2 separate regions of the Homo sapiens genome follow, and region 2 is linked to region 1. The links come from fine-mapping of genetic effects on gene expression. A gene starts in region 1. The other region holds a variant in brackets. All regions are shown on one strand. Distances are between the middles of the regions. Region 1 holds the start of TM2D3 (TM2 domain containing 3). Region 2 overlaps TARS3 (threonyl-tRNA synthetase 3).

Region 1 (15,284 bases):
TTAAAATCAGCTGCTTTTTCCCCTAGTTGTTGCTCAATGGCTCATGGGCAAAGTGGCCACTGGTGGATAGGCATGGGCTCAAAGACATGGACTTTGCCTCACTAAGTTCCATCTGGCTACATCTCTTCTGAGAATTCAGGTTGCCATCAGTCAGTGATTAATTGTGATCCCCCGGGATGGTACCATAACCTGGGGTAATAGCCAGTGGTCTTGTAGCAGGTTGATTACGTTGGATCCCTTTCATCATGTAAGGAGCAATGCCTCATTCTCACTGAAGAGAGACTCACTGTGGATTTTGCTTTGCTCTTCTTTGCTGCCATGCTTCTGCCAGTGGCACCAAATATGTACTTAGGTGCTGCCAGGAACACAACAGTGCTTCTGACTATGAAAGAGATTTTATAGCAAATAAGTAAAGCATTGCACTGACATTAAGGGATTCACTACTATCACCATGCATTCAGAAGCAAGTGGCTTTACTAGCAGTTATAGCACCAGCTGGCAGACAACATCTTGTGATGATGTATCCTAGTATGTGGAAATGCTGCAAACCAGCAACCACCTGTGAAATTTCTACCTCCCATTCCATTTTTAGAAATTGGCTAAGCATCTGCTCATGCAGTTTAGCTCTCTCTTCAGAAACTACTGCCCCCACTGCTACTATTGCCGGGCACAGTCCCTGCAGCTCCCACTGTGGACACTGGGCACCGGATGATACTGCTAGGGTCACTGCAACCAGTTCCTCCAAAAGCTCCATGTCTCTGCATCACCTTTCCTTGCCATAATGGATTCCATGTGGTGCCTCCTTCTCCACTCTGTCTTAAGTCAGAGTGCCATGTTTATACATTAGCAGAACCTAGATCACACCCATGCATACTACCATTCATGTCCAGCGAGACTGGGGAAGCAAATTTTTGAGCAGGAAACATAAGGTGGAAAGTTTCCCAAACAAAGTGTCTTCCAAAAGACCTGGGTAGCTAGAGAGTCTGTGTATATTCCTGATATTTTGTGATCATAGAGAAATATACTTAGGTATCATGGAGTTTCTAAGCTGTTGAAGTTACAGTTAAGCCAAAAGTATGGGTATGAATATGTATGCCGCCTGAGTATGAGTTAACATGTTTATATTTCTTTCCAGTTGGTTTTAAATAGTTTACCATAGGTAAGAGATGATGGTGTTTTGCATTAGAATGGTTGCAGTGAAAGTGGTTTAAAGAAAAGAGAGAGAACTAGTGAAATAGGAGATGGAGAGGGAGACAGGAGGTGGTTGGGGCCAGTGCACTGAGCATGCCTTCCTTTGTCGCAGAGACGGAAGTATACTCCCTGCACTTCATACATCCAGACTTCAGACAGCAGTCAGCCTTGTGGGGAAATCTCCCCAGGAGCCAAAAGTAAAGATGGCTAAAGTGTGGGTCCTTGAGAGGAGTAGGGCTGGGGATGGGATAAGGACAGAGCTCAAAAGGAAATATGTAGTTGCCATTATATACCCTGTATTTCTGTGTTCTACCATTTATCATGTATTGTTTTGTGTTTGTAATTTGAGAATAAATATATAAATATGCACATTTATAAAATGCTATCTGAAATAGTCCTCCTTGCATGTCCTTTCACCTTCAGACTAAATACTCACTATGACAGGGAAAGGGCAAACATGTCCCACAGCGGACACTGTTTATACCTACCCTGCCATCTTTTTTATTCTAGAAAAATTATATTTTGAAATAATTGTAGGTTCGCATGTTGTTCTAAGAAGTTATATAGAGGCCGGATGTGGTGGCTCACGCCTGTAATCCCAACCTTTGGGAGGCCGAGGTGGGTGGATCACCTGAGGTCAGGAGTTCAAGACCAGTCTGGCCAACATGGTGAAACCCCGTCTCTACTGAAAATACAAAAATTAGCTGGGTGTGGTGGCAATGGCTGTAATCCCAGCTACTCAGGAGGCTGAGCTAGGAGAATCACTTGAACTCGGGAGGCAGAGGTTGCAGTGAGCCGAGATCACGCCACTGCACTCTAGCCTGGGTGAGCAAGATTCCATCTCAAAAAAAATAAAAAAGAAGTTATACAGAGAAGTCCAGCACACTCTTTACCCAGTTTTCCTCAATGGTAACATCTTGCAAAACTAGATACAATATCACAGCCAAGAACTAGACATTGAGACTGTCCACCAACCTTGTTCCGATTTCACCAGCCTCACATGCACTCATTTGTGTGAACGTGTATTTAGCTGTGTCACACGGACAGATGGTGTAAGGCCACCAGTCAAGGCACAGGACAGTCCATCACTTGTAAGGCTCCCTCCTGCTGCCCTTTTTTCCCCACACTCAAACCATCCCACCCTGTCCTCCTATCTGACAGCCATGAACTTGTTCTCTAGCTCCATCATTTTGTCATATAAAGAATATTACATAAATGGATTTACAGAGTACACAAACTTTTGAAGTAGGCTTTTTTTTTTTCACTCAGTGGAATTCCCTTAAGAGCCATCCATGTTGTTTTGTTTCGAGATAAATTAGTTGGTTCCTTTTTTTTTTTTTTTTTTTTGCTGATGGTGTTCCACGTTCCACAGTGTGGATGCACCACAGTTTGGCCATTCACCCGCTAAAGGACATTTGGGGTGTGTGTTTCCTGTTTGGGGCTATTATAAATAAAGCTGCTATGGACGTTAGTGAGCAGTATTGTGTGTGAACCTGCGCTTTCATTTCTCTGGGACAAATGCCAGGAGTGCAATTGCTGGGGCAGACAGTAAGTGCATGCTCAGCCCTTTGGGCTGTCTGCCAGCTCATTCTACCTGCACTTGTGCTATCAAAATTCCAAAATTCTCCTTTCATTTACTTTGCTGCCTTCAAACTTTAATATAATTTAGTTTTCTTCCATGCTGCGCTACTGAAACTGCCCTCTTGTGAAGTCTTTAAAAGAATCTTTGGTTATTTGAAAATCATGTAATAAGTAGCCATTATTACACTTTGAAAATACATATTTTATATATATTTTTCAGGCCTTTCTGGCTATCTCCTCGTCAGGTGATGGTCATCCCTGTGGGGCCAACTTGTGAAAAATATGCACTTCAGGTAAAATCAGAGGTGTTTAAAGTACATAATAATCTTGCATGTATTCTGTGTAGGTCATCGATTTGGAGTGTCCTTCATGCTTTAAAATATTGCAGAACTGACACATTAGCTTAAACCGTGTTTTCAGCAGGTGGGAGTAACACACGAATCATGTCTCTGCAGCTGTCTCAGAACTATTTCATTCTTAATGTTTTTTGAGAAATTAGTATTTTAAAACATATCATAATTATTCATTTCTACACAGCTCTATTAGGGAAGAATATTATCTGTTGCTGTGTCACAAGTGACCCCAAAACTTAGCAGCTTTAAACAACAAACATTGATGATCTCACAGTTCCTACGAGTCAGGGTCTGGGAGCAGCTCAGCTGGTGGATTCTGGCGCAGAGCGTCTCCTGGGGCTGCAGTCAGGCTGTCAGCCAGGGCTGCGGAGCTCGGGGCTCGCTCACAGTTGGTGGATGCAGCTCCTCATCACCTGGGTGCTTGCTTGCCTGAATGTCCTCACTGCATGGTGGCTGGTTTCCCCCAGAGCAAGTGATCTGAGAGAGATGGGAGCTGCAGCCTTTTATAAACTAGTCTCAGAAACGATGCGCCGACACTTCCGCACTTCTTTATGGTCACGCAGACCCGCTCTGGTATAGTGAGCAGGGAACTATACAAAGGTGTGAATACCAAGAGTGGGGAACAACGGGGTCTTCTTGGAGGCTAGGTACCATAATGTAACAGTAAAGGTGTTTCATTTTCTTCTAGGTATCCAGTGAATTTTTTGAAGAAGGATTTATGGCTGACGTTGACTTGGATCACAGTTGTACACTAAATAAGAAAATACGAAATGCACAGCTGGCTCAGTATAATTTTATTTTGGGTAATTTAAGTTTGTATATATTTTTCCAAATGCTTTTTTTTCCCACTTCAATTCCAAAAGACCAAATAAGAAATATGGTTCAACTACTTGATTATCATGATTTGTCTATTTAATACTTACACAAAAGGAAGAGTCCATAGCATTCCTAGCTTAGCTGTTCCTAGGTACTCTTTGTTGTTTGCTGGAAGAAGAGTTGTAAAGTTTCACCTGAATCCCCTGGGATAGTTTTACTAGCAATAGTTCATATTGCAAGCAAACAACGAAAACAACTCTGAAAATGATCCCATCAGTAGAATTATATACTTTATATTTCAGCCTCACAGGCCTGTAATATTTTCCCTCACTTTTCTGGCTTATTAGGAAACTTTGGGATTAAACTAACAGAAAGAAAAGATCCCAAATTTAAAATGATCTAAAGGAAAAGATTTAGATGAAAAGTAAAATGTCCTTTTAGCATATGACTAATTAGATGCAGAATCTAAAATTTAGGCTTTAAAAATGATTCCAAAATTAAGAGAAACTAACACTGATATAACTGCAGGCACAGTATTGCTATTTCTTGTAAGTTGAGAGTCTGTAGAAGGCGAAATAAATATGCATAGCATTGTTCTATTGACAGTGTTTCAATGATAATGTTTGACACCAGAGTAGGTATTGTGCTGTTTCAGTCAGGCTTCTTATGGTGGCAGAAATCTCAACTTGGTTTAGACAAAGACAGCATTTGTTGGAAGGGTCTTGGAGTATCCCATGACATGAAAGGTAGAATTAAATAGCCAAACCACTAGAAGAGCAATCAGGAGCTCAACCCTCACCAGGAGTATTTCTCCCCATTTCTCGTTCCTGTCTTGCTCTGGTTCTTTATGCTTCTCTTGAATATCTACCTTATTCCACTTATCTGCAGACCGGTTTCTTCCTTCTGTGTGGCAAGAAGCATGGCTGTAGATTCCTGCATCATCTCACAATATGGGTCACTAGAGAGAACAAACTTTTTACCCACATTCCAGAAAGTTCTGGCTGGCTCGCATGGGTCTGGTGTCCACTCCTTGGCTCATCAGGTATGCCAGGTGGAGTCAGCGTGAGCCTGTAAGAGCTCCCCGCTCTCATCTGCACCCTAGTGCCAGGTGGGGTCAGTGTGAGCCTGTAAGAGCTCCCCACTCTCATCTGCACCCTAGTGCCAGGTGGGGTCAGTGTGAGCCTGTAAGAGCTCCCCGCTCTCATTTGCACCCTAGTGCCAGGTGGAGTCACTGTGAGTCTGTAAGAGCTCCCCGCTCTCATTTGCGCCCTAGTGCCAGGTGGAGTCACTGTGAGCCTGTAAGAGCTCCCCGCTCTCATTTGCGCCCTAGTGCCAGGTGGAGTCACTGTGAGTCTGTAAGAGCTCCCCGCTCTCATTTGCGCCCTAGTGCCAGGTGGGGTCAGTGTGAGCCTGTAAGAGCTCCCCGCTCTCATTTGCGCCCTAGTGCCAGGTGGAGTCACTGTGAGCCTGTAAGAGCTCCCCGCTCTCATTTGCGCCCTAGTGCCAGGTGGAGTCACTGTGAGCCTGTAAGAGCTCCCCCCTCTCATTTGCACCCTAGTGCCAGGTGGGGTCAGTGTGAGCCTGTAAGAGCTCCCCCCTCTCATCTGCGCCCTAGTGCCAGGTGGAGTCACTGTGAGCCTGTAAGAGCTCCCCCCTCTCATTTGCACCCTAGTGCCAGGTGGGGTCAGTGTGAGCCTGTAAGAGCTCCCCGCTCTCATTTGCGCCCTAGTGCCAGGTGGAGTCAGTGTGAGCCTGTAAGAGCTCCCCGCTCTCATTTGCACCCTAGTGCCAGGTGGGGTCAGTGTGAGCCTGTAAGAGCTCCCCGCTCTCATTTGCGCCCTAGTGCCAGGTGGGGTCACTGTGAGCCTGTAAGAGCTCCCCGCTCTCATTTGCGCCCTAGTGCCAGGTGCAGTCAGTGTGAGTCTGTAAGAGCTCCCCCCTCTCATCTGCACCCCAGGACCACAAGAGCTGTTCTCTCAGGTGGACAATAGAGAGATGGGATCAGAAGTCATTGCTTCCCTCAAGAAACTTAACTATCAGAGGATGAACCAAATGCTCATTAGATGATATTTAATATTAGTGAAGAAAAACTTGATAAAAACATGTCATGGGACTGCTGACTTAATGTTTGGTAAATTGCTGATTTAAAATACATTTCTTTACCTTTCTTTTCTGCAGTGGTTGGAGAAAAGGAAAAGATAGATAATGCTGTAAACGTGCGAACAAGAGACAACAAAATTCATGGAGAGATTTTAGTAACTTCTGCCATTGATAAACTGAAGAATCTCAGGAAGACACGGACACTCAATGCTGAGGAGGCCTTTTGAAGTCCTTCCCTGATATTTGCTTCTGTGTAACTTTGTTTTGACCCTTAAAAATGTATTTTTCTTAACATGTTAGTACTTCTACGACTTTGGAGCCACTGATGGGTCCACTCATGGCCTCAGCTGAGAAAGGAGACGATGAACGTGTAGCTGACATGCACGAAGTTTAATTTACTCATGTCCACGGGGGACGTTTAGAGGGCACGTGGGAAATTTTCCAGCAATCAATGCCTTGAGAAACTTAAATGGGGAAATATTATTCATCGAGAAAGTGAAACAAAACACTAGGAAATGATTATGAAATGTTAGTGATTTTCAAAAGATGGGCTTCAAATAAAAGTCTGCAGAGTTTTTTTTAAATAGGAGGGAAAATCTTATTTTCTAATATGTCTCAGGTATTTTTATGACTTCTACTAAAATTCACACTGAAACTTTATCTTCTAAACTGGAATCATTACTTAATTTTAACTAACCAACAACCACAAAAGCAGCAGCTACTGCTAAATATTGGATTACTGACAAAGGAATTCAGTTTTGTGGAATCTGGTGTTTGCACTATAGGTTAAGAGTTGCCATTTAAATGTTTCTTATTCATAATTAGGTTTTGTTCCGCTTTAGAAAAAAATAAATTCCCAAATGAATTGCATCAGTGTTTCCAGCGTTTCAGCTGTGGGCTTCTACCACCACTAAGCCGCTCACCTAGAGTTGTTACTTTTTTGATGGGATGACATTCCATGGATTTATGTACTGAAATGGATTTCAGATTTTAAAGAGAGGAATGCTCTACGTGCTCAGAACTGAATTAAAATGGCATTATGTCAATAGAGAATTCAGCTACCAAACAAGAAGTATTGTTTATTTTGCGATATGCTGTGAAATTCAAAAGAAATGTAAGAAATAATCTCTTTTCAATATACTGATCATTTAGTTAACTTCCTGAGGGATGTGAACAGTGAAACAGTTGGCAAACAAAACAATATATATCAGGCTTGTGTAGTAGTATAAGGTGCAGATTGTGTGATATGATTTTTATTATTTATTTTTTGAGACGGAGTCTCGCTCTGTCACCCAGGCTGGAGTGCAGTGGCGCGATCTCGGCTCACTACAACCTCCGCTTCCCGGGTTTAGGCGATTCTCCTGCCTCAGCTTCCCCAGTAGCTGGGACCACAGGCGCGTGCCTCCACGCCTGGCTAATTTTTTTGTATTTTTAGTAGAGACAGGGTTTCACCGTGTTGTTAGCCAGGATGGTTTCGATTTCCTAACCTCGTGATCCGCCCGCCTGGGCCTCCCAAAGTGCTGGGATTACAGACGTGATTCACCGCCCCCGGCCGTGATACGATTTTTAAAGCTAACATTCAGGGCTTATGTGCCGGCACTTTTCCATGTATTTTTTAAAAAGTCATTCAGCAAACATGCACGTGAGGGGGTGGTAGTCAGAAGACCGCGGAATGAACGATCCCGAAGCACGTGGGTGGGAGGAGAGCACCTGTCACCAGCGCTTTCTCCCAGGTGTGCTGTGACAGAAACCGGCAAGGGTCTCCGCAAGCTGGGGCCTGAGCGCGGCTCCCCAGACGGCCGCGACCTTCCCCAGGCAGGGCTGGGCTCTGGACCCTCCCCTCACTTCCCAGCGCCTCGGGCCATCCTGCTTCTCCAGGCCTGAGAGGAACTTTCTGGAAGTGCTGCGTATCTTCAAGAGGCCGGCCAGAAGTGAAAGCCGCGGCAGGCCTGAGCGCCGGCCCCAGGGGAGGGGTCCCTCGGGCCCTCGTCGTCCCGGGGCCGCTTCCCCGACTGTAAATAAGTGTCTTTAGGATGAAACGCCACGCGATAGTGTCCTCGGAACCTTCGCACGAGATCCAGCACACAACATCCGACCACACACTGGGGCGGCCAGCCTCCCGCGTTCGCCCGCCTCTGCTCTTGGTTGCTTCGGGCGCGCATTTCGGTCCACGGATGACCTTTAACAGGTCTCCTGCAGTGGAACCAGGGGTGAGGGCCTCGTCCAAGGGCGTGAGGGGCGCGTGGAAATGGAACAACCTCCCAGGCTCGCATCCTCCTCGGGGACCTCCCAGAAGGCTCAACCGGAAGAAAACCCGCGACCCGCGCGAGGACAGCGAAAGCGCAAACGCCGGCCGCCAGGAGTCGCAGCGCGCCTGCGTCCAGTTCACGCTCCGGCTCCCAGGCGCGCCCCGCCCCCCGGCCCGGAAGTGCGCAGGCGCTGGCAAGATGGCGGGAGGGGTGCTCCCGCTGAGGGGCCTCCGCGCCTTGTGTCGCGTGCTGCTCTTCCTCTCGCAGTTCTGCATTCTGTCGGGCGGTGGTGAGTCAAAGGCTGGGTTCAGCGCCGGGTGGGGCTGAGTGGCAGCAGGGCCCCGGGAGCTGCGAGGAGGCCGGGCCCACGGGCGGACGCTGACGCGGGGAGGAGGCCGAGTGCCGGGCTCCGGGCCGCTTGTCGCTGCATCTGGAGTCTGGCGCCCTGGCCGCCCGGCCCGAGGCCGCCCCTCCGCTCCGGCGACACCGAGCCCGCCATCGCGGCTGCGGAGCCCTGGCACGGAGATGGAGCGCTTGGGGGCTGGGCCGGGGAGGCGGAACTGGAGCGCGATGTCATCCTTCGGTCCCTCGTTGCCGGCTGACCTGAACTGATGTCTACTCTGTTGACGTTTCGTCCCTAAGCTTTGTGTTTTCTGGCTGACCAGCCGTGAGGTTTTCATGAGCAGCTTATTGGCCTGGTGTAGACCCGCCGTGTTAACCACACAAAATAAGGTTTTCTTGTCCCGGGATAACGTGTTTCTCTAATTGTACGATCCTTAAATTTAGAGCAATCGCAGGCGCTGGCTCAGTCAATAAAGGATCCGGGCCCAACACGCACATTCACAGTAGTTCCCAGGGCAGCAGGTACTAGACGTTTTCTATTCTAGTAAATACATGTAGTTATCTCTAGTAGTTTCTCTTTGTTTTTATAAAAATTCCCTTTAGTATACGAAGTCACTTTCCATTTTTGAATATTTATTGTATTTTAGATTATGTGAATTAAGGGTAGATACACAGCCATTTTCAGTAGATAGTCTTCGTATTTATACCTTTTGACGTTTCTGCCTCCTCTCTTTTTCCAATCCCACGCTCATTTGTCACCTTATTTCTATTATTTTTCCACTTCATCCATCAAAATAACCTTCAGTCCGTGCTTCTTTCCCTTCAGCAAATTTCCTCTACTGCTAAAACCCTGTTCCTGATGTTGGAATATTAAAGGCTCCCTCAGGACTGTGGAAATGGAAGGATTACAGCGGGACTGATGGAGACTTGAAATCTAGATCTGGTTTTGCTACTGGGATCTTGAACAAATTATTTATCCTCTTTGGACCTTGGTCCTCATCTTTAAAGCGGTGGGGTTGGTCTGACGACCTAAAGTCATTTCTGCTTTGTGATTCTAAGTGTCCACCTTCCAGCCACATAGTCACGGGATCAAAAAGAGTATTTTGTAGAATTGTTCCTTAATACAGTGAGTAAAGTAGGACCAGTTTTAAACAAGCATTAGTGTGTTTTGCTAGGTGGAGGCTCTGACTATAATTTCATCACTTTAAAGTGACATTACTTCAGTGAATTGAAACTGGCAGAGATATTTTACTGATTCTTATTTGGATGTAAAAAACAGCAGTGCACTTGAATTTTAAACTCAGATTACTTTTTAGAGAAAGCACAAGAGTTCTTAACTCTTGCAGGCTTTTGAAAGCCCTTCTTTTCAGGAATACTTGCAATTTTGATCCTTTCAGTTGGTAAAAATACATTGCACACTCATTAGGTTGGTTGGAAATAAGTTGCAGCTTACTGAAGATGTTATTAAAGTAGAGAACTGTTTTGAACTTTGGTAGCGTAAAACTGTAAATATTATATTAGCAAATGTGGCTTATCGAAGTACCAGTGTGAAATAATGACATTTTAAAGTTGATGCCCTGAGGATGTCAGTGGCTTCATTTCTGAATTAGTGAATTCAGATGAAAAGAACACGGGATTGGAAATGGAGAGATTTGGGTTCTAGTTCCAGTTTTGCCACAGACTTCCTCTGTGATTTTGCAAAACCCTACTGTAAGTTTTTTTTCAACTTACAAAATGATAGTCTTTTTTTTAAGCCCTTAATGTATACCCAGAATTTTCTATACATTATTTGTATATGAGCACCTTTAGTTTTCACGGCCACGTGGGAGGCAGGAATGAAGTAATGTTTTACAAGTGTGGTGCTCACCAGGTCCCACAGCTGGCCGTGGGCAGAATTCTGCTTTAATTGCAGGTGTCTCTGACTCCAGTCCCATGCTTCTTCCCTTCCAGTGCAGTGTCTACTTGCTAATGATCACGTCTCTTAACCTTAGAAGATTGTTCTCTGTTATTCGAATCAGTATTATAGGAGAATAAGCTTCTCTCTTGCCTCTCACAGAAAGTACTGAAATCCCACCTTATGTGATGAAGTGTCCGAGCAATGGTTTGTGTAGCAGGCTTCCTGCAGACTGTATAGACTGCACAACAAATTTCTCCTGTACCTATGGGAAGCCTGTCACTTTTGACTGTGCAGTGAAACCATCTGTTACCTGTGTTGTAAGTACTGCAGCTTACTTATTCTAAATAAATTCATTGTAAACTTTAAGTTAGAAGAACAATTCAGACTTGATTATTGGGAAGAAATTCTGAAGAATTTTTATATTCTTTTATGATTTCCCTTTTGAGTATGTAAGCAGAAATAAATTAAAAAACCCAATAGACCTTTCCATATCAGCTCACTACTGTTTTAGTTATAATGATAACTGTCAAGCCAGTTGATGTCTGCTGGAAATGCACTTGACAGAAATGTTGCTTTGTAGGACTGGAGAAGATCTCAGTCTACTAGCATATCTGAAGCAAGTCTAATTCGTTCAGATGGATTCTGTGTTCTCAATAGTGACAGCTAGTGTACAGAGGGGGTGGCAGTGTCTTTCTGCCATAGATGAGCTTTTGAAGGGCCAGTGCTTATCTGTGGTGAGAAGATGGATTCAGTAAATGCCGGAATGCCTGGTAGCTCTCTAGAACAAAATTAAGTGGAACGCCTGTCTTATCCAGAATAAATTCCAGATAGTCCAAAGATGTAATGTGAAAAATGAAACCCTGAAGTACCACAGAAAACACCAGATAGTTGCTGTTATAATCCCAAAATGGAGAATATTTTTCTAAGTATGAAATAAAGTTTAGAAGCCATAAAATAAAGAATTGATACATTTGACTCCTAAAAATTGGAGATTTCTGCATGACCTAAAAAAAAAAGCATAAAGGCAAAAGACATGGCAAACTAGGAAAAAGCGTTTCTAGAATATGTGACAAATAATACAGTAATATCAGTAATATATAAACACTTCCTAAAACCCACACGGAAAAGATGACAGTCTTGTAGAAAAACAGTGTTAGGACATGAGCAGATGGTTCATAGGAAAGGAAATACAAATAGATATATAACATGAAAAACATATAAGTTTTCTCATAGTATTTAATTAATACATTTTTAACCCTTAGATTGGCAATTTTTTTTTAATTTGATTAACTCTGAGTTTGTGAGAGTATAAGGGTCAGATGCTCATATCTTATTAATAGGTAATCAAATTGATCAACCTCTTGTAGGCGATTTGCCATATCTGTTAAACTTACACATGCACACAATCGTTGAGCTCGTAGTTGTACATGTAGGAATTTATGTTATAGATATCATTATACATGGATGCAGATAAGTGTGCTTATTTTTTAGCTGCATTGCTCATTAAAGCAAAAGATTCAAAAGAAGTGAAATGTCTAAGAACTGCTTAATTTATGGTACACGTGTAATAGAATAAACACCTTGTAGCCATTAAAAAGAACTAGGCAGCTCTAGAGGTAATGTACTGATAGATGTCCAAAATTAAGTGAAAGTATTGGGGAACATTAAATGTAGGTGACATAAATGTGCCTATGTGTAGAATCAGCTCTCTCTGGAAGCACAGAGCGTACTTGGCCTGGGGAGGGCAGGGGCTCCCGGCGGCTGGGCCAGACGAGGCCGGCTCACTTCTCACTCTCCTGTTGTGTCTTGACATGTGTTCCATGTACATGTGTCACCTACTTTTTAAAAAACCATTAAAAAAAGTGTGTTTTAAGCACATCACTGAAAATAGGCAGATGTAAACGTATTATTTTGCAGATCCAACTGTTTGCCTAAATCAAGTGATGCCTTACCCATATTTGAATGTTTTCCATAAAAAGTGGTTTTTGCATTGATAAGAAAATGAATAGTACTTGCTTCATCAGCGCATATGCCAAAGTTGGAACCATACAGAGAGAATTAGGATGGCTCTTCTGCAAAAATGACATGCAAATTTGTGAAATGTTAAAAAAAATAACAAACATGGGCCGGGCGTGGTGGCCTACACCTGTAATCCCAGCACTTTGGCAGGCCGAGGCAGGTGAATCACCTGAGGTCAGAGGTTGAGACCAGCCTGGCCAACATGGTGAAACCCCATCTGTACTAAAAATACAAAAATTAGCTGGGCGTGGTGGGGTGCGTCTCTAATCCCAGCTACTCAGGAGGCTGAGGCAGGAGAATCGCTTGAACCTGGGAGGCGGAGGTTGAAGTGAGCCGAGATTGCACCACCGCATTCCAGCCTGGGCGACAGAGCGAGACTCCATCTCAAAAAAAGAAAAAAAAATAATGTGTGTATGTGTATATATATGTATACATATATATACATGATGCTTCCAGAGATGTGTGACCACATAAAAATGATTTTGAAAAATATGCACTGCAATGTAATGTCAGGTAGAGTAAAAAGACTACAAAGTGCTTTCAGTATAATTCCATTTTAGTAAATTTATAAATATACATGTAGAAGAAACGGAAAGAAGATTAAAAGTGGTTAGCTCTGAACACCTATAGGTTTTTGTCTATAATCTTCAAATATGTAACATACAAAGAACATTCTACTTTTGTAAGCAGAATACAAAATAATGGCTTTTAAAATTGAAATGAAAAATTCTCTGGCCACCAGTGAACACTCACTGAGCCTCCACACACCATGTGGTGCTTCTGAGTTGGGCTGCCTCTGGATTAAACATGCCACATGCCCTGGTGGTAGGAGCAGCTGTAACAACCCTGAGTTGCCAGGCTGTGCAAGGTAGGGGATGTTAGGGAAGGTTGGCAACTCGGAAGCAAGGCGGTGTGTTAACCATTACAGAAGCATCAGGCTGGAGTTCAGGGACCTGGATTCCACTCCTCACTTGAAGCTCAGTGACCTTCAACAAATGCATTCATCAGTTCCTTCCAGCCATCCGTGATTGTGACTTTCTAAAATAAATTTTCCTCTTTTCTGCATTATAAAAGTATACGTTTACTATGAAAAATTTAGCTAAGCAAAAGTTATGAAATAATTATATCACCCTGAAATAACCTTTGCTATTTTGATGTGAATTTATCTAGTTTTTTCCCTTAAGTACATATGTTTGGGTGTGTAGTTTTATGATTATGAGGTCACATCATAGGCATTTGTTTTACATACATATTGTTTTGGTAACTGTTTTTCTGGCACTTACTCCTAGGTCCTAAATACAAGCATTTACGGAATTTTGTGCCATGTGACTGTGTAGTCTTACTGACATCTTAACAGACTACACCATTGTGATTGATGAGTTTTGTGTCATTTGCTACATAGGATCAAGACTTCAAATCCCAAAAGAACTTCATCATTAACATGACTTGCAGATTTTGCTGGCAGCTTCCTGAAACAGATTACGAGTGTACCAACTCCACCAGCTGCATGACGGTGTCCTGTCCTCGGCAGCGCTACCCTGCCAACTGCACGGTGCGGGACCACGTCCACTGCTTGGGTAGGTCAGAGTTCAAGGACATTTGTCAACAAAATGTTTTTCTCCAAGTTTATTGAAGGGACTTTAACCAGAAATTTGCGAGTCAAGTTACTTAATTAGAAACATTTATCAGCAGCTCTTTAGATGTGCCAAGCATCATCAATAAACTCAACGTACTAAAGTAAAGCATCCAGAAAATTGCAGTTCTTTTTAAATGTAATATTTGATAAAATAAGAAAAACATTTGAAGTATAAAGCATAATACACAGTAATTGACCTTTACCCAAAATAACAATGAAAGCAGCACCAATACCATTGCGGCCGCCTGAGTGCCTGAGTGCTTGCCTTCACCTGGTTGCCTTTCCTCCTCTTCCAAGGTAACCACCCTTTTGAATTTTTTATTTCACTTCCTTTTAAATTTTTTCTGTAGTTTTATTGTCTATATGTAATAAAATAATATTCAATAATGCATGTTTTAGAACCGTGTAAAATGATTTCAGGCTGTGTGCTCTTCTGGGACTTGCTTATTTCCTAAACATTGTGGCTCTAGGATTCATCCACGTGACTTCTCTTCTTTTTTTTACTTCTGTGTAATAATCTATTGTAAGATTGTATCACAGTTTATTCTCCAATATATTTGGTTAAGTGCTGTTTTCCGCTGTTGTGACTGTTCAAATTTCTTTGCCTGTCTCCCAATGGCACAGGTGCAAGAGCTTCTTCAGCATGTACTTTCCAGCGTGTGTCATTCTTTAAATGGCTGTATTGACTGGCATTCCCACCCGCGCTATGTAACTGTTCCTGATGAGCCATATTCTCTCCAAGAGTGGTTATTCTTAAATTTGGTCTTAAAGTTGTCTAGACTTCTTTTATATTTTGGATATTACCTGTGCTGTCCCTGAAACCCTCTCCCAGATTTTGATTTTTTTTTTTTTTGCATTATTGTATATTTTCATGAACAGAACTTTAAAAATATAATTACTGGAAGTTATTAGAGTTAGTCCTTTTTTGTGGTGGTTTTAAGAAATCTTTTTCTACCCCAGGTTAATAAAGACAATTTGCTACATTTTCTTTTGAAAGTTGTAAGTATAACATTTCACATTTAGGTTTAGAATCCACCTGGAATTGGTCCTGGTAGATGGTGTGAGGTAGATTCTACTTTAATTGTCCCCCCACATGGATG
Region 2 (15,778 bases), 42 kb before region 1:
ACCACCCCACCCGGCTAATTTTTCTATTTTTAGTCGAGATGGGGTTTTACCACATTGGTCAGGCTGGTCTCGAACTCCTAACCTCAGGTGATCCGCCTGCCTCAGCCTCCCGAAGTGCTGGGATTATAGGCATGAGCCACTGCGCCTGGCCTTTTTCATACACTATTTTAAAATATTGTTCTATATACTATGGTTTTCTTGAATAGCCCTGATGTAAGCAAGAATATTTGTCTGCATGTGAAAGTAATGTATTGCGGCATAAAGAAAACAGCAGGAGGGGATATGATGTTGTAATGGAGAAAACATCGCTCTGGGATTAGGAGGCATGGGACTGACTTGGCAGTCCCAGCCTTTCTTGGCTTTGATTTTCTTACAGGTAAAATGGGGCTGGCTAATGGCACTGTTCTTAATCATTGACTGTAGGTCAGCAAGACCGACCTTTACTTCCCCATACCTACTGTCTGTTCTGCCCCATCCTTGGTGATTATGATTGCTGCTTAGCCTTCCCTCCTTTCTGTGTGCTCTCACTGTCATTCCTAGAATCCATAGCAGACTCTACATAATTTGCTGGTTAATGGTATAATTTAGGCTGGGAAGGTTTAGTTAGAATCCATTTTAAGATTGTTCCCAGCACTACAAATAGTCTTCTTTAAGCTTTGTTGATTTTGTTTGTTTGTTTGTTTGATTTTGAGACAAGGTCTTGCATTGTCACCCAGGTTGGAGTGCAGTGGCACAAACACTGCTCACTGCAGCCTCGACCTCCTGGGCTCAAACAGTCCTCCTGCCCCAGTCTCCCAAGTAGCTGGGATTACAGGCATGTGCCATCGTGCCTGGCTAGTTTTTGTATTTTCTGTACAGATGGGGTTTTGCCACGTTGTCCAGGCGAGTCTCAAACTCCTGAGCTCAAATGATCTAACCACCTTGGCCTCCCAAAGTGCTGGGATTATAGGCATGAGCCACCATGCAGGGCTGCTTTGTTGATATGATAGTGGAAAATTGCATTTGTATTTAAGAGCAGTTTTACTTACAACTGAATGTATGATATATTTACCAAAATCCTCTTTGATATTTAGAATTCCTCAACATATTGGGAGGGCAATCCGGAAATGGAAACATTGCAGAGGATCTATGGAATATCCTTTCCTGATAACAAGATGATGAGAGACTGGGAAAAGTTCCAAGAGGAAGCAAAGAACCGAGATCACAGGAAGATCGGGAAGGTATGCCCCACATCTTAATCACTGGAGATGTAATCATAAGCCAACATAGGAATGTTTCTGTCTCACAAAACTAAGTTGCTTTAAAAATAAGATTTCTTCTTCTTCTCTCCTATTTTGCTGGCACTCACAGTCCGCTGCTCAGTGCTTTCATTTTAATACCCCAGATGTCTTCTAACCTCTTTCCTTCCTGTATCTTTTATTAATTTTTGAAAATTGTACCCTTCTCTTATTTTTGTCATGATAAAAAATAAAGTTGTTTTTGGTGAAACCCCACCTCTACTAGAAATACAAAAAAATTAGCCAGGCGTGGCAGCACGCGCTTGTAGTCCCAGCTACTCTGGAAGCTGAGGCAGGAGAATCACTTGGGCCCGGCAGGCGGAGGTTGCAGTGAGCTGAGATCGCTCCACTGCACTCCAGCCTGGGCGACAGAGTGAGACTCAGTCTCAAAAAAAAAAAGAGTTGTTTTTTACATTCTGTGCACTTTATAGCATCCTTTGTATCTGGGAGACAGAGCAGCGTGTAGAAGGAAAAGCTCAGACTGGAAAGCAGCTCGGCCTGAGCTTTATGCCCAGTCCTTGTACTCACTAGTTGTGTTAGATGATGGGCAAGCTCCGTGTCCTTGTCTTCCTTGCTGGGTAGCCTTGCAGGGTGGCTGTGAAGACAGAAACTGGGTGACGGTGCCTGGTACAGGATAGGCTCTCAGTAGGCAGCAGCCATGATGATCATCATCACCTAAAGCCCACCTCCTGCAATGAACTTTTTTGGTCTTTCTACCGTGTTGTCTCCCCATGAGTGCCGTACTCCAAGTGTGCCAAGTAAGAAAATTCGCAGAGAATAGCAGAAGGTGAAGTAAAAGCTAAGTTCAAAGCTAATTAGGCATAAATATGATTGGAAATTTTACATATGCTGTTGCATGCATTTAGGTATAAGTGTTGAATGGCCTTGGAATGTCTATTACTAGAGAAGATGGAAATAACTGAGTATTATATGTGTGTGCAGTAAATATTAAGCAATAGCAGATGACATTTGAAATGCAATTTTTGTTTCAATCTAGGAACAAGAACTTTTCTTTTTCCACGATTTGAGTCCTGGAAGCTGTTTTTTCCTTCCCAGAGGAGCCTTCATTTATAATACGCTTACAGATTTCATACGAGTAAGTTAACTTTAAAATGTTTTATTCTTATTCAATTCCAGTTTACATTTTTACTATTTTCTCTCATAATAAAGTGGTCAAGCGTTTCCATTAACTTTACTTTGGTAACATTAATAAGAATTTTGAGGTTAAAAGTGAGATACTGGCCAGACACGGTGGCTCACACCTATAATCCCAGCACTTTGGGAGGCCAAGGTGGGCAGATCACCTGAGGTCAGGAGTTCGAGACCAGCCTGGCCAACATGGTGAAACCCTGTCTCTACTAAAAATACAAAAATTAGCCGAGTGTGGTGGTGCACACCTGTAATCCCAGCTACTTGGGAGGCTGGCAGGAGAATTGCTTGAACCCGGGAGGCAGAGTTTGCAGTGAGCCAGGATTGTGCCACTGCGCTCCAGCCTGGTGACAGAGCAAGACTCCATCTCAAAGAAAAAAAAAAAAAAAGTGAGGTACTAGATTGTACCTTCTAATAATAACATGGAGATAATTTCTGTTTCCCCTGAATACATTCCTGGATTTCATAAAATTCACTTTTTGTCCATATAAGTTTCTAAACCATGTAGAATATAAAGGTAAGCATTAGACTAAGTGTGGCACTCCCTGTGAAAAAGAAGAAAGGAGAAAGTGTCGTCTCTGGTACAGAGTGTTAAGCCATGAAGCATTGCTTCTCCAAATGTGCTCCATGGGCCACTGATGCTTCCCTTTGCCTATAGCATGACTCCCAGGTGATTTGGCAGTTCCAGAGGAAAGAGGAAAAAACCAACAGTGCAAAATACCTACTTGTATTACAAGTTCATAGGTGGGAAAGTCTTTAGTATTTACATGATAAGGACTGTGTAGATAGTGTTCACAGGTGATCCGGGTGGACTACTGGGATTACATTTCCATGCTTGCACTGTTTTGTCTTTCCTATAATCATTACCTAAATTTTTCATTTACTTAGTTTTTTTATGTGCCTACCACTAATTCATGCTCCAATTTCTCTCAAAAACTACAAATCTCCTTGCAACATATTCTGCAATGATTCAGGTAATTGCTCAGTAATTTTTTTTTTCAAATTTGGTCCTACTCCAGAATTAACTTGCTACTAAGATTCTTGCAAACTGATGGCTTAGGACTTCTTTTCATCATCATCTTGGCCACTCCCCTCATGTCTCTTCCTATGCTGAGTCTCTTTTCCTGGTCCCTGTATATCTCTTCGTTGCTTATCTTTAATTCTCATTTGGGGATCACTTTCTTCAGTAACTTTCTGAGAAGACAATCCATGGCATGTGGCCTGCACTGGTTATTCTCTGTTTGCTTCTCCAGTCTTGTTCTCCGTCTTTTTCTTCTTGTGCTGTGCCCCTGGAGGCTGACATGTCTGTATTCTATCACCTGGGGTACACATCTTCCAGTAGGGACTGGCCAATGCGAGGCAATGGTAGGAGATCAGAGGGCAGTGGAAGAGACTTGAAGAATCACTGAAGATTATCAGAGATTTACATTTAGGCAGGTGGTGATGACCATCACAGCTGCTGATTTGGATGTGCTGTCTTCTCTGGAAAATCAGCATGGCCCCTGGCACCTTGTACTCTCAAGTTGGGAGTACAATAGATGGAGAATGAACAGAAAGCCTTTACAGTGGCATTAAGGGGATCTCTTATTTTTTATAGATGCAAGACAGATGTGGCTGATGAACAGGAGCAGGGCCTGATTGTGAGGGTCACCAAACTGTAAAGGCACTTAAATGCACAAACCCAGTGATCTCTTATTCTAAGGTAAGGGCACTGGTTGGGAAGGGTCCCTGAGGCTTGGAATGGGAATATTTGACAGACACAGGCGACACTGAGAACTTTGCATTTCTGGATACCTTTGTCTGAAGGAATTGGCCTTACCATGAAAAAAACCTTTTGGAGAACTCAGCTGTTTTTTCTGTTGGTTTTTTGTTATTATGGTTGTGTCACTTCCCATATCAAGTAATATTTTGTTAGATGCCAAGTATTACATGTAATTTAGGTGTAGAGGCTCTAGATGATATCTCCCACTGGAGCATTCACCCTCTGCCACTATTAAGGACTGATCATTGAATTCGATCAGAGATTGCACTGGGTTAGGGCCGGCTTCCACTTTAATAAGATTCAACTTTTGATTCCTGTTTCTAGGTCATGACCCCCTTGGGTTTCCACTTGACAGGCTGGTGGGTTTATGTCTTTTCAGCCCCAAAGGACTGTAGGGAAGTCCATTCTACTCTTCCAAAGTGTTCTATTCTTAACAAATAATTCCAAGGCTCATCTAATTACTACATTGGCTCAAAAATCCAGGACATCTTCTGAATCAGGCCTAGCTGCAGATGAGGCTCCTCGGGTGCAGTTTGTTGGGAACAGATTATCAAGTACATTTCCTCTACAGTTTAAGACCTGTGAACTAAAAACTCAAGTTATCTATCAGCCACCTCATCCTCTCATCTCCCTCACATTGTAAAATGGTGCTTGAGGAATAATGCAATAGATAGTCTTACTCAAAAAGGAGTGGGGTAGAGTAGGAGGCACATGGTAGTCACCATCTGTAGAAATTCTGGTATCTACCGGTCATCACTGCCCCAGGGTCAAAAGATACACTTTGATTAAGATCCAGTTTTGCTCTGCCTGGCTGTGATTCTGCCCTCTGAGTCATCCTTTCTCTTCCATAAGAAATGGCCCATATGTGCCTTAGGGTAGCTTTCTTTTTTAAAAAAAAAAAAATTATTTATGTATTTTTTTATTTTTTATTTTTCTTTGAGACAGAGTCTCGCTGTGTCGCCCAGGTTGGAGTGCAGTGGCGTGATCTCAGCTCACTGCAACCTCCTGCCTCCCAGGCTCACGCCATTCTCCTGCCTCAGCCTCCCGAGCAGCTGGGACCACAGGCGCCTGCCACCATGCCAGGCTTTTTGTATTTTTAGTAGAGACAGGGTCTCCCTGTGTTAGCCAGGATGGTCTAGATCTCCTGACTTCGTGATCCGCCTGCCTCAGCCTCCCAAAGTGCTGGGATTACAGGCGTGAGTCACCGCGCCCGGCCTGGGGTAGCTTTGTTCTCAACCTGATTCCTTCCTGTAGAAGGCTGGGGGAATCCAAAGCCCTTATTTCATTTTGTGCTGCCTTTCAATCTAAGCTAGTACAATTCCTTTAAAAACTTTGCGAGTCCTTTTCTATAAATTTATCATCAACACGGTTAGATAAAAGCCACATCCACATCTTTCTGACACCGATCCTTCTTTGCCTGGGAGGCTACTGTGAGACAATAGTACACTGCAGAGTCTTCAGAGCCTTCGTGTTTAATGGAAAGGGTCTACAAAGCACACTCCTAAGACTTTCAGAAGCCTTACTAGGTGCACTTACAGTAGATCATTCTGAGGTTTTCACAGTGTCTTACAGCCCCGCCCTTAAGATCTTTACCGTAAGGCTGTGCTTTGATGATTATAATCTGAATTTGATCCGTGTCCTGAAGCCTCGTGAGTCTTTTTTGGTACAGTCTAAGGATAAGAAGGTTTCATTTTTGAACCCAGCAGGTCCTGGTGGCTTTATATTTCCTCTAAACTTGGCTCAAAAAGTTAATTAGTTTCACGTTTGGTTTATACCTCTTTTCTTGTATTTTACCATAGGGAGCCAAAAATCGGCTGTCATTTTCTACATTCTGCCTGGACGTCTCCCCAGCTAAGTCCATGAGTTCTTTGGGTACCCTTTCTGTTTTCCATGTTACTTCTGGTGACAGTGTTACCCACCATCTGTTTCTGGCACCTCGTAATAAGAATCCCTTCTAGCTTCTGCCCACCACCTGGCCCCAAAGCTACATGTTTTAGGTTATTGTTATGTCAACTGAAGAATCATGAGGTTCATAAAATTGTAAAGGAGAGCTTCATTTCTTCTGAGGGGTTGCAGCCTGAAATCTTGCAGGCTAGGAAGCTTCATAGCTTCTGGCAGAAACCAGAAGCAGGCATTTCAAGGGAGGGAAAAGTAAGACAGGAATTTATGCTGATGAGATTGGCCAAGTATAAATATTTAACAGGTTATAAGAAGAGCTATGAATATTCACAAAGGGGGGACATTTATATACATAGTAAGCAAACATGCATGTTACATGCATCCCTTGTTCACTTTGGGGTGGAGACAATGCATTTAAATTAGGCTGTATAACCAAAAGGTCAAATGGAGGACACGGAGGCATCCCATGTGCAGCCTTTATAAACCAACCAGAACCAGTGCATGGTGAGTGGTCTTTTAACAGGAAGAAATGCTGCTCAGTTGTGTAAATCAGTGGTGGAACAAGTCTTTCAAAAGGGCTTGTTTCTGATTAACTCTTAGGAAAGAAAGCCTAATGGTTGTTAGTGACAGAGTGGGTATAATTAGGCATGTCCAACCTCTTGTCACTGCCAGTAACTCAGTTTTTAAGGTTTCTCTGGGGTCCTTTGGCCAAGAGGGTGTCTGTTCAGTCAGTTGGGGAGCTTAGGATTTTATTTTTATTTCTCAGTTATAGCAGTACCTACATCCAGTGCAAAATTCTGTTCTGGATGGCTATTGCAACATAGCAAAGTATCCCAGAACTTAATAGTTTAAAACTGCCATTTCATCATTACTGTCTTTCATAGTTCCAAATTTTAGGCTCCTGTGGGTGGTTCTCGCATTGGGTCCCTTACATGACTGTATTCAGGTAGAGTCTCATGCCAGGGTTATTGATTGAAGAATGTCCCCTTCCCATCATAGAAAGACTAAAAACATCAGGCATTGGCAAGAATATGAAGCAAGTATAACACTTACTGCTGGTAGGAACGTAAAATGGTAGAACTACTTTGTAGCAGTTTGGCATTTCCTGTAAAGATAAACGTGCCCCACTTCTTTTTTTTTTTTTTTTTTTTTTTTTTTTTTGAGACAAAGTCTCGCTCTGTTGCCCAGGCTGGAGTGCCGTGACGCGATCTCAGCTCACTGCAAGCTCCGCCTCCTGGACTCATGCATTCTCCTGCCTCAGCCTCCCAAGTAGCTGGGACTACAGGCGCCTGCCACCACCATGCCTGGCTAATTTTTTTGTATTTTTAGCAGAGACCGTGTTAGCCAGGATGGTCTCAATCTCCTGACCTCGTGATCCACCCACCTCGGCCTCCCAAAGTGCTGGGATTATAGGCATGAGCCACCACCGCGCCCGGCCTTTTATTTTTTTATTTTATTTTTTTCCTAAGATGGAGTTTTGCCCTTGTCGCCCAGGCTGGAGTGCAATGGCATGATCTCAGCTCACCACAACCTCTGCCTCCCAGGTTCAAGTGATTCTCCTGCCTCAGCCTCCCAAGTAGCTGGGATTATAGGCATGCACCACCACACCCAGCTAATATTTTTGTATTTTTAGTACAGATGGGGTTTCTCCATGTTGGTCAGGCTGGTCTCAAACTCCCAACCTCAGGTGATTTGCCCGCCTCAGCCTCCCAAAGTGTTGGAATTACAGACGTGAGCCACCACGCCAGCCCCCACTTCTAATTATCCCAAGATAAATAAAAACATATGCCCGCATCTACACTGAGACTTGTATTTGGATGTTCATAGAAGCGTTACTTATAATAGCACAGAACCAGAAACAACCCCAGATTCAGCTTGTGAAAAGATAAACATAATGTGGAAAGTCCATGCTGTGGAATACAACTCAGCATTTACAAGCAGTGAGATACTGATATACACATGAAGGAGGAACCTCGAAAGCATCGTACTAAGCCAGATAAGTCAGAGAATGCATAAGGCACCATTCCATTATATGACATTTCAGAAATGCCAAAACTATAGTGACAGAAAGATGATCAGGAGTCCAGTGGGTGGGGAGAGGGGATTGACTCCAGGGGGTCAGGAGGGAACTTCCTGGAGGGTGGAAATGTTCTATATCTTGACTGTGGCAGAAGTCGCATGACTGTATACATTTGTCAACAGTCACTGAATTGTACACTTAAAATTGGTGAATTTTATGGCGTGTAAATTTTACCTCAAGCCATTTTGTGGTAAAATACACATAATATAAAAATTTACCATTTTAACTATTTTTAAGTATGCAATTCATTCTCACTAAGTACATTCATGTTATTATGCAACTGTCATGGTCCATCTCCAGAACTCTTTCCACGTTGCAAATCCGAAACTCGCCAGGACTTTGTCATCATCCTACACTTAATCTCTGTACCCACTAAACACTAATTTCCATGCCTGCCTCCCCCAGCCTCTGGTAACCACCACTCTAGTTTCTGTCGCTATGAAATTGACTATTTCTAGGTGTCACATATAAATGGGTTCATAGGCTATTTGACCTTTTGTAATAAAACTATCTTTTTAAAAGTCTCCTTTGGTGTTGACATAGGCAAGCTAGCTTTCTTACATTAGTGTTTGCATGATATATCTTTTCCTATCCTTTTATTTTCTGCCTCTGTTTCTATATTTAAAGTACGTTGCTGGAGAAAAGAATACTGTTGGGTCTTGATATTTTTCA[G/A]TCTATCTGCCTGTGTCTTTTTTCCTCTCTGCCCTCTTCCATGTGCCTCAAGGTCCTCCCTGAGGTTCCAGTTGGTTCTGTTAGTCACCAGCCAGTAGAGGGTGTGCTTGTGGGACAGACTCTCAGTCACAGCTGGGCTGCCTCAGGGGCCATGGTCTGGTCCAATATCAGTAGCCTTTGCCTTGGTGCTGAGTCCTAGACCAGTCAGTAGTAGCCAGAGTGCTGGGGATACATGGTGCTGAGCACGATGGAATATATGGCCGCATTCTACCAGGAAGCATCCTTTTCCTCAGAACTGGAACTGCTGCATTTCTGTGGAAGGGATGTAGGAGGCCAGGATGGGCTGGGTGTGCACACTGCTCCCACTGAGGGAAATTTCAGGATTTCTGAGTTTTTGACTCAGGTAAAATGACTTCCACTTAGGTTTAAGTAAAGGCAAGTGAACTTTTGTTTGTATATTAGTTACTGACTGTGTGGACAACTGATAGTGAATAAATAGATCTTTTTGTTAGTCTCCTTGAATTTTTTTTTCCCTGCATTCTGGAAAATATCTGTCAGCTGATTCTGTACTTTTCTTACCTTTTTTTAAATTAACTTTTTTAATTGTCATGCAGTAAAATGTACGCCTTTTTGATAACATGCAGAACTGTGTTATCACCTCAGCAATCAAGATACAGAACAGTTCCGTCACCCCTCAAAACTCCCTCATGCTACCCTTTTAAAATCAAATCCTCCCCAGCCCTGACCTCAGGGAACGGCTGATTTTTTCTCTACCCCTAAAATATTGGCATATAAATGGAATCATACTTTTATAAAACCTTTAGAGACTGACCGCTTTCACCCAGCATAACACCCTGGAGATGCATCCGAGTTGAGTGTCCCCAGCGGGCCTCTGCTTTTGTCCCTGGGCAGTATTCCATCATATGAACATACCACTGCTTCAGATCCATCCTGCAGTTGAGGGGCATTTGGGTTGTTTTCAGCTTTTGGCAGTTATGAAAACTGCTATTGTCATTCATGTACAGTTTTTTGTATGAACATAGGTTTTCATTTTACTAGAGTAAATACCTAGGAGTGTGATTTCAGGGTCATATGGTGATATGGTTTGGCTGTGTCCACACCCAAATCTCACCTTGAATTGTAGTAATCCCCAAGGGTCAGGGGTGGGGCCAGGCGGAGATAATTGAATCGTGGGGGTGGTTTCCCCCATACTGTTCTTGTGGTGGTGAATAAGTCTCTTGAGATCTGATGATTTTATAAAAGGGAGTTCCCCCGCACAAAGTCCCTTGCCTGCTGCCATTTAAGATGTGCCTTTGCTTCTCCTTTGCCTTCCACCGTGATTGTGAGGCCCCCCCACCAGCCATGCTGAACTGTGAGTCCATTAAACCTCTTTCCTTCATAAATTACCCAGTCTTGGGTTTGTCTTTATTAGCAGTGTGAGAATAGATATGGTAAATTTAAGTTTATAAGAAAATGCCAAACTATTTTCCAAAATGACTACTGTTTTGCATTCCCACCAGCTGTGCATGAGGGTTGCTTTTGTAAAGCTCATCTCAGTCACACCTTTTGCATTTCCTGGAATCTGCCTGACTTGTTGATGCATGTCTTGAAACCCTGGAGTGGGGAGGGGAGTGGCTTCTCTTGTTGTTATATTAATAACCCACTTGGGGAATTTTTGCTTCCTCTTCACACAACCTTAGATGGAGTGAATTTCTAGACCAAGCTTGTCTTTGTGAACATGGCAGGCCTCAAAACATTCAGCTCTTCTGCAGGGAGAGTCCTGAAAGATGCACTCCAAGGGTTTAACTGAAGAGAGTCTAGTGAAGGAAGTATTTATGGAGATATGGGCCTGGCTAAGGTAACTAACAAGGGATGATAGAGCGCCCAGGGATTACCAATAGCAAGAATCCCTTCCCCTCCATCACTAGGCCTGCAGAAGTGAGGAGATGGAGTAGTAATACTAGAACCCACAGAGAGCTTGGAGCCATGGAGGAGAGAAGTGAGGAGATGGAGTAGTAATACCAGAACCCACAGAGAGCTTGGAGCCATGGAGGAGAGAAGTGAGGAGATGGAGTAGTAATACCAGAACCCACAGAGAGCTTGGAGCCGTGGAGGAGAGAAGTGAGGAGATGGAGTAGTAATACCAGAACCCACAGAGAGCTTGGAGCCGTGGAGGAGAGAAGTGAGGAGATGGAGTAGTAATACCAGAACCCACAGAGAGCTTGGAGCCGTGGAGGAGAGAAGTGAGGAGATGGAGTAGTAATACCAGAACCCACAGAGAGCTTGGAGCCGTGGAGGAGAGAAGTGAGGAGATGGAGTAGTAATACCAGAACCCACAGAGAGCTTGGAGCCGTGGAGGAGAGGCCACACAACAGAAGCTGTAACTGTGGAACACAGCCAGAACCTGAGTAAACCCACAGCAGGGAGAACCAGGGAAAGAAATATCCAGACCTCTCTCTTCCACTACCCTGTGAATCCTTTGGAACTTCCCATTGGTCAGACCCAATCAGAAACCATATGGAAAGTATATTGGCATGTCAGGATTCTCCACAGAAACAGAACCAACAAGATACATAGAAAAGAAGAGATTTATTATGAGGAATTGGCTTGTGTGATTATGGAGGCCAAGAAATCCCATGATCTGAGGGTCCAAGAAAGTTGGAGATGTAATTCTCGCCTGAGTGCAGAGGCCTGAGAACCAGGGGAGCTGATGAATCTAAAAAAAGGAGAGAGCTCAGGTACATACACAGAGAATTAAACAGTGCTTACCATGGTCAGGGGTTGGGGGGAAGAAATGGGGGGATATAGATCAAAGGATACAAAATAGATATCTAGGATCAACAAGGCCAGAGATCTAATACAGAACATGAGGACTAAAGTTAACAAAATTATATTTATCAGGGAGTTTTGTTAAGTAATTAGATTTTAACTGCTCTTGTCACACACACAAAAAAGGTAACTCTTTTACTATTTGTGTCCTATAACATCATGTTGTGAATCTCAAATATGTGAAATAAAATTTATTGAAGAAAATTTAAAAGGCTGGGCATAGTGACTCACTCTTGTAATCCCAGCACTTTGGGAGGCTGAGAGGGGTGGATCGCTTGAAGCCAGGAGTTCGAGACCAGCCTGGCCAACATGGTGAAACCCTGTGTCTACTAAAAATACAAAAATTAGCCAGGCGTAGTGGTGCACATTTGTGATCTCAGCTACTTGGGAGGCTGAGGCAGGAGAATTGCTTGAACCCAGGAGGTAGAGGCTGCAGTGAGCCAAGATTGTGCCACTGCACTCCAGCCTGGGCAAGAGAGCAACACTCTGTTTCAAAAATATATATATATATATATAAATACTGAGGTAATAGTTCTAAGACTGATACCCATTGGCCGGGCGCAGTGGCTCATGCCTGTAATCCCAGCACTTTGGGAGGCTGAGGCGGGTGGATCATGAGGTCAGGAGATCAAGACCATCCTGGCTAATACGGTGAAACCCCATCTCTACTAAAAATGCAAAAAAATTAGCCAGGCGTGGTGGTGGGCGCCTGTAGTCCCAGCTACTCGGGAGGCTGAGGCAGGAGAATGGTGTGAACCCAGGAGACGAAGCTTGCAGTGAGCTGAGATCACGCCACTTCACTCCAGCCTGTGTGACAGAGCGAGACTCCATTTCAAAAAAAAAGATTGATACCCATTAAATAATTTTCATTGCTGAAGGAAATGTGAGGAAACAGTTATCATATACTTAGAGAGAAAGTTTAAATTGCTACTAATCTGGTAACAAATATTAATGTGAAAAAAATGCACACTCCTAGCAATATTCTTAGAAAGGAATCTAAAATATACAATTAAAATCACATAGAAAAAAACTTTACTGCAGAATAGTTTGTAGTATTCAAAAATGAAAAGTCTAATGTTTCTCAATAGTAGAAGGATTAAATACTTTGTGACATGTCCACACAATAAAGCACTATGCAGTTAGTACAAAAATACATCTATGCATACTAACTTGAAGGGGGTTCAGTATACCTCACCATTGAAAACTGGAAGTGACAGAGTAAATGTATAGTGTATCCTTTCTTTTTATAGGTAAAAGCAAAAAACAACAAAATCCTGTATGTGTGTTTTGTGTTTGCACAGTCATGGAGGAGAGGGTTGAAATACAGGAACAGCAGGCCATTAGCATTATCTCAGGGCAGTAAAGGGTGGAATGAGAGAAAATGTTCAGGTTTTCTTTATACACCTTATTTTTTTCCACATGAAACATAATTTAAGCATGTTGTATTATACTATTGTGTTTAAAAGTATATATTTTATAAAATAAAAAAATAATAATCACAGCAAGTAAGCCTTGTGCGGAGCCCACAGAAGTCAGCTTTGGGGAACACAGTGCAGGGCAGAGAAGGAAGGAAAATGGGCCAAGATGAGGCGAGACAGGCAGTGGCAAATGGAAAATAACCAGCCTGGCTCACCCCCTGTGCCTCTCAGCACATTCTTGCCTTTTGCTTGGAGGACACTGAGGACATTGGTTTCCTCCCACAAACTCCGATCAGCCGATGTGTCATCATGTGGTGATGTCATTTCAGTTTCACCTAAATCTGAATCGTGCCATTGGCCACCATGAGTGCCCTTCATGTAAGAATGCAAGGAAAAGTCATAACTAAATGTAACTGTTTCAGCCTCTGTAGATGGACGCTAGGGCCAAGCTGATACATCAGAGCCTTCTTTTCCCATCACTCATTCCACATTCGCCTTATCCTGGTGGCACCCCAGATGGGCATTGTTTTATTTGGTGGGTGCATTAGTTTCCTAGGGTATTATAACAAAATACCATAAACTAGGTGACTTAAAACAACAGAAATTTATTATCTCCCAGTTTTGGAGGCCAGAAGTGTGAAATCAAGGTGTTGACGAGGCTGTGTTCCCTCTAAAACCCATGGGGGAATCCTTCCTTGCCTTCTCCTAGCTACTGTTGGTTGCCAGTCATCTTTAGTGTTCCTTGGCTTGTTGAAGCGTCATTCCCATCCTCTGTCTTCACGTGATGTTCTCCCTGCGTGTCTTCACATTGTCTTCCCCTTGTGTGCATCTGTCTCTGTGTCCAGATTTCTCCTTTTTATAAAGAGACCAGCCATATAGTATTAGGATCTACCCTAATGATCTCATTTTAATTTGATTACCTCTATAAAGACCCTACTTCCAAATAAGGACACATTCTGAAGTACTAGGAGTTAGGACTTCAAAATATCTTATTTGGAGAATACAGTTAAACCAATAATAGTGGATGGCCTCAGTCTGTCCTTAGGATCCAAGGTTTTAGTAATGCTCTTTGTGGGGTTTCAGGGCTCCCACTGATGGTTGTTGCTAGATGTGTTGATATCAAAGGCTCCCCACTGAATTCCAGACACAGTCCTCCTTACTCCATTGTAAGCAATACGACTTCTCCCAGTAATTGCGATCAAGGGTAGTAAGTCTTTCCCCAAGTAATTGGGATCAAGGGTAGTAAGTCCTTTTCTGTCTATCAGTTCTATAGTAAAGGGAGCCCATAATGGGCAATGGACAATCTCAACTCCCAAGCATGTCTCAGTTTTTGGTGAAAACATACTTTGGGCACCAAAACATGTTATCGAAAGATTCCAAAGCTCCAAGGATAAAGAAAATATCCTGAATGTTTCCAGAGAGAAAAAAGCCACAGACATAGGACTGGGTATCTGAATGGCATTGAAATTTTCAGTGGAAACACTGAAAAACAGAAGACAGGAACAATGCCTTAGTAATGCGAAGCCTAGAAATCTATACCCAGTTAAAGTAGCTTGCTTCTGGGTTTCTCCCACTGCCAATTTAGTTTTGGCTTTCCTAGGTCTTCTGAGGCAATTAACACTTGATCACCTACTTTGCAGATTCTAACTTATTATAGCATTCATCTTCTCTCCTATTTTCTTTGTCCTGGTAGATTTATGCTCTTATAAAAACTTTCTTTACTCTTATTTTAATGGGGTTTTGGAAAGGAGCTGTTTATGTGGAATTGCCTTATTTTTTACAATGAGAAATTACTTGAAAACAAATTTATGACACTGATTCTTAGAAGCTATTTAGATGTTTTTAAGTGGCCAGATCACTAGGTATGGGTAGAGACTCAGCTCCTTCAATAACCTAAACTGGTATTTCCAGGATGAAATATGATTTTTAATGTTCCAGATAAGTTATCTGGATTTCTTCAGGAGACTGGACTGAGCTGTGAACTGCTCAGTCACTGAGAGTTTACTCTTTCCCAGCATTAGAGAAAGAAATTAATGGCATGGCATGAGACATATTTTACTCCCCAACTTTTTCTCTTGAAAAGTTCAAATCTAGAGAAAAACTAAAATGCAATGCAATGAACATCCATATTTCCTTCATTTGGATTCATTAGTTGGTAATATTTTGCCAGTTTGCTTTATCTCTCTGTTATTTATATGTGTGTGTGAGAGACAAAACAATATGTATATTACAATATGGAGAGATACAGCAGCATAATATATATAGATATCTCCTATATATTTATGTAAAAATATAATAGTTGCTGACACTTCATCTCATAGGGATTATATTCATTAGTTTGTGCTGCTATAACAAAGTACCCTAGACTGGGTAGCTTATAAACAACATAAGGGTATTTCTCACAGTTCTAGAGGCAGTAAGTCTAAGATTAGGGTCCCAGCATGGTTGGGTTCTGGTGAGGGCCCTCTTCCAGGTTGCAGACTGCTGACTTCTTGTAACCTCAGATGGCAGAAAGAGGACCAGAGAGCTCTCTGCGAATCCTTTTATAAGGACACTAATCTCATTCATGAGGGCTCTACCCTTATGACCTAATCACTTGTCAGAGGCCCTACTTCCTAATACCATCACCTTGGGGTTAAGGTATCAATATCACAATTTTGGGGGAGACACATTCAGTCCATTGCAGGGATAG

What was found.
Region 2: its variant is fine-mapped to the expression of TM2D3 in whole blood (INTERVAL, PIP 0.91).

What each region holds. Positions count from the first base shown.
Region 1 is chr15:101,645,566-101,660,849 of GRCh38, reverse strand. It overlaps TM2D3 (TM2 domain containing 3), which reads left to right and starts at 8,469. Exons shown (of 6, transcript NM_078474.3): 1 at 8,469-8,579; 2 at 9,077-9,154; 3 at 10,689-10,846; 4 at 13,951-14,125. The coding sequence starts at 8,489. It overlaps TARS3 (threonyl-tRNA synthetase 3), which reads left to right. Exons shown (of 19, transcript NM_152334.3): 17 at 2,993-3,065; 18 at 3,814-3,928; 19 at 6,120-7,254. The coding sequence ends at 6,268. It also overlaps the pseudogene RNU6-807P. RefSeq lists enhancers at 7,175-8,065, 8,172-8,231 and silencers at 7,892-8,081, 8,322-8,881, 14,045-14,211.
Region 2 is chr15:101,687,681-101,703,458 of GRCh38, reverse strand. It overlaps TARS3 (threonyl-tRNA synthetase 3), which reads left to right. Exons shown (of 19, transcript NM_152334.3): 9 at 1,074-1,220; 10 at 2,275-2,373. Among named protein-coding and RNA genes, the nearest start is that of TARS3, 29 kb to the left of the region's middle. The variant G/A (reference allele first, on the strand shown) is at 8,840.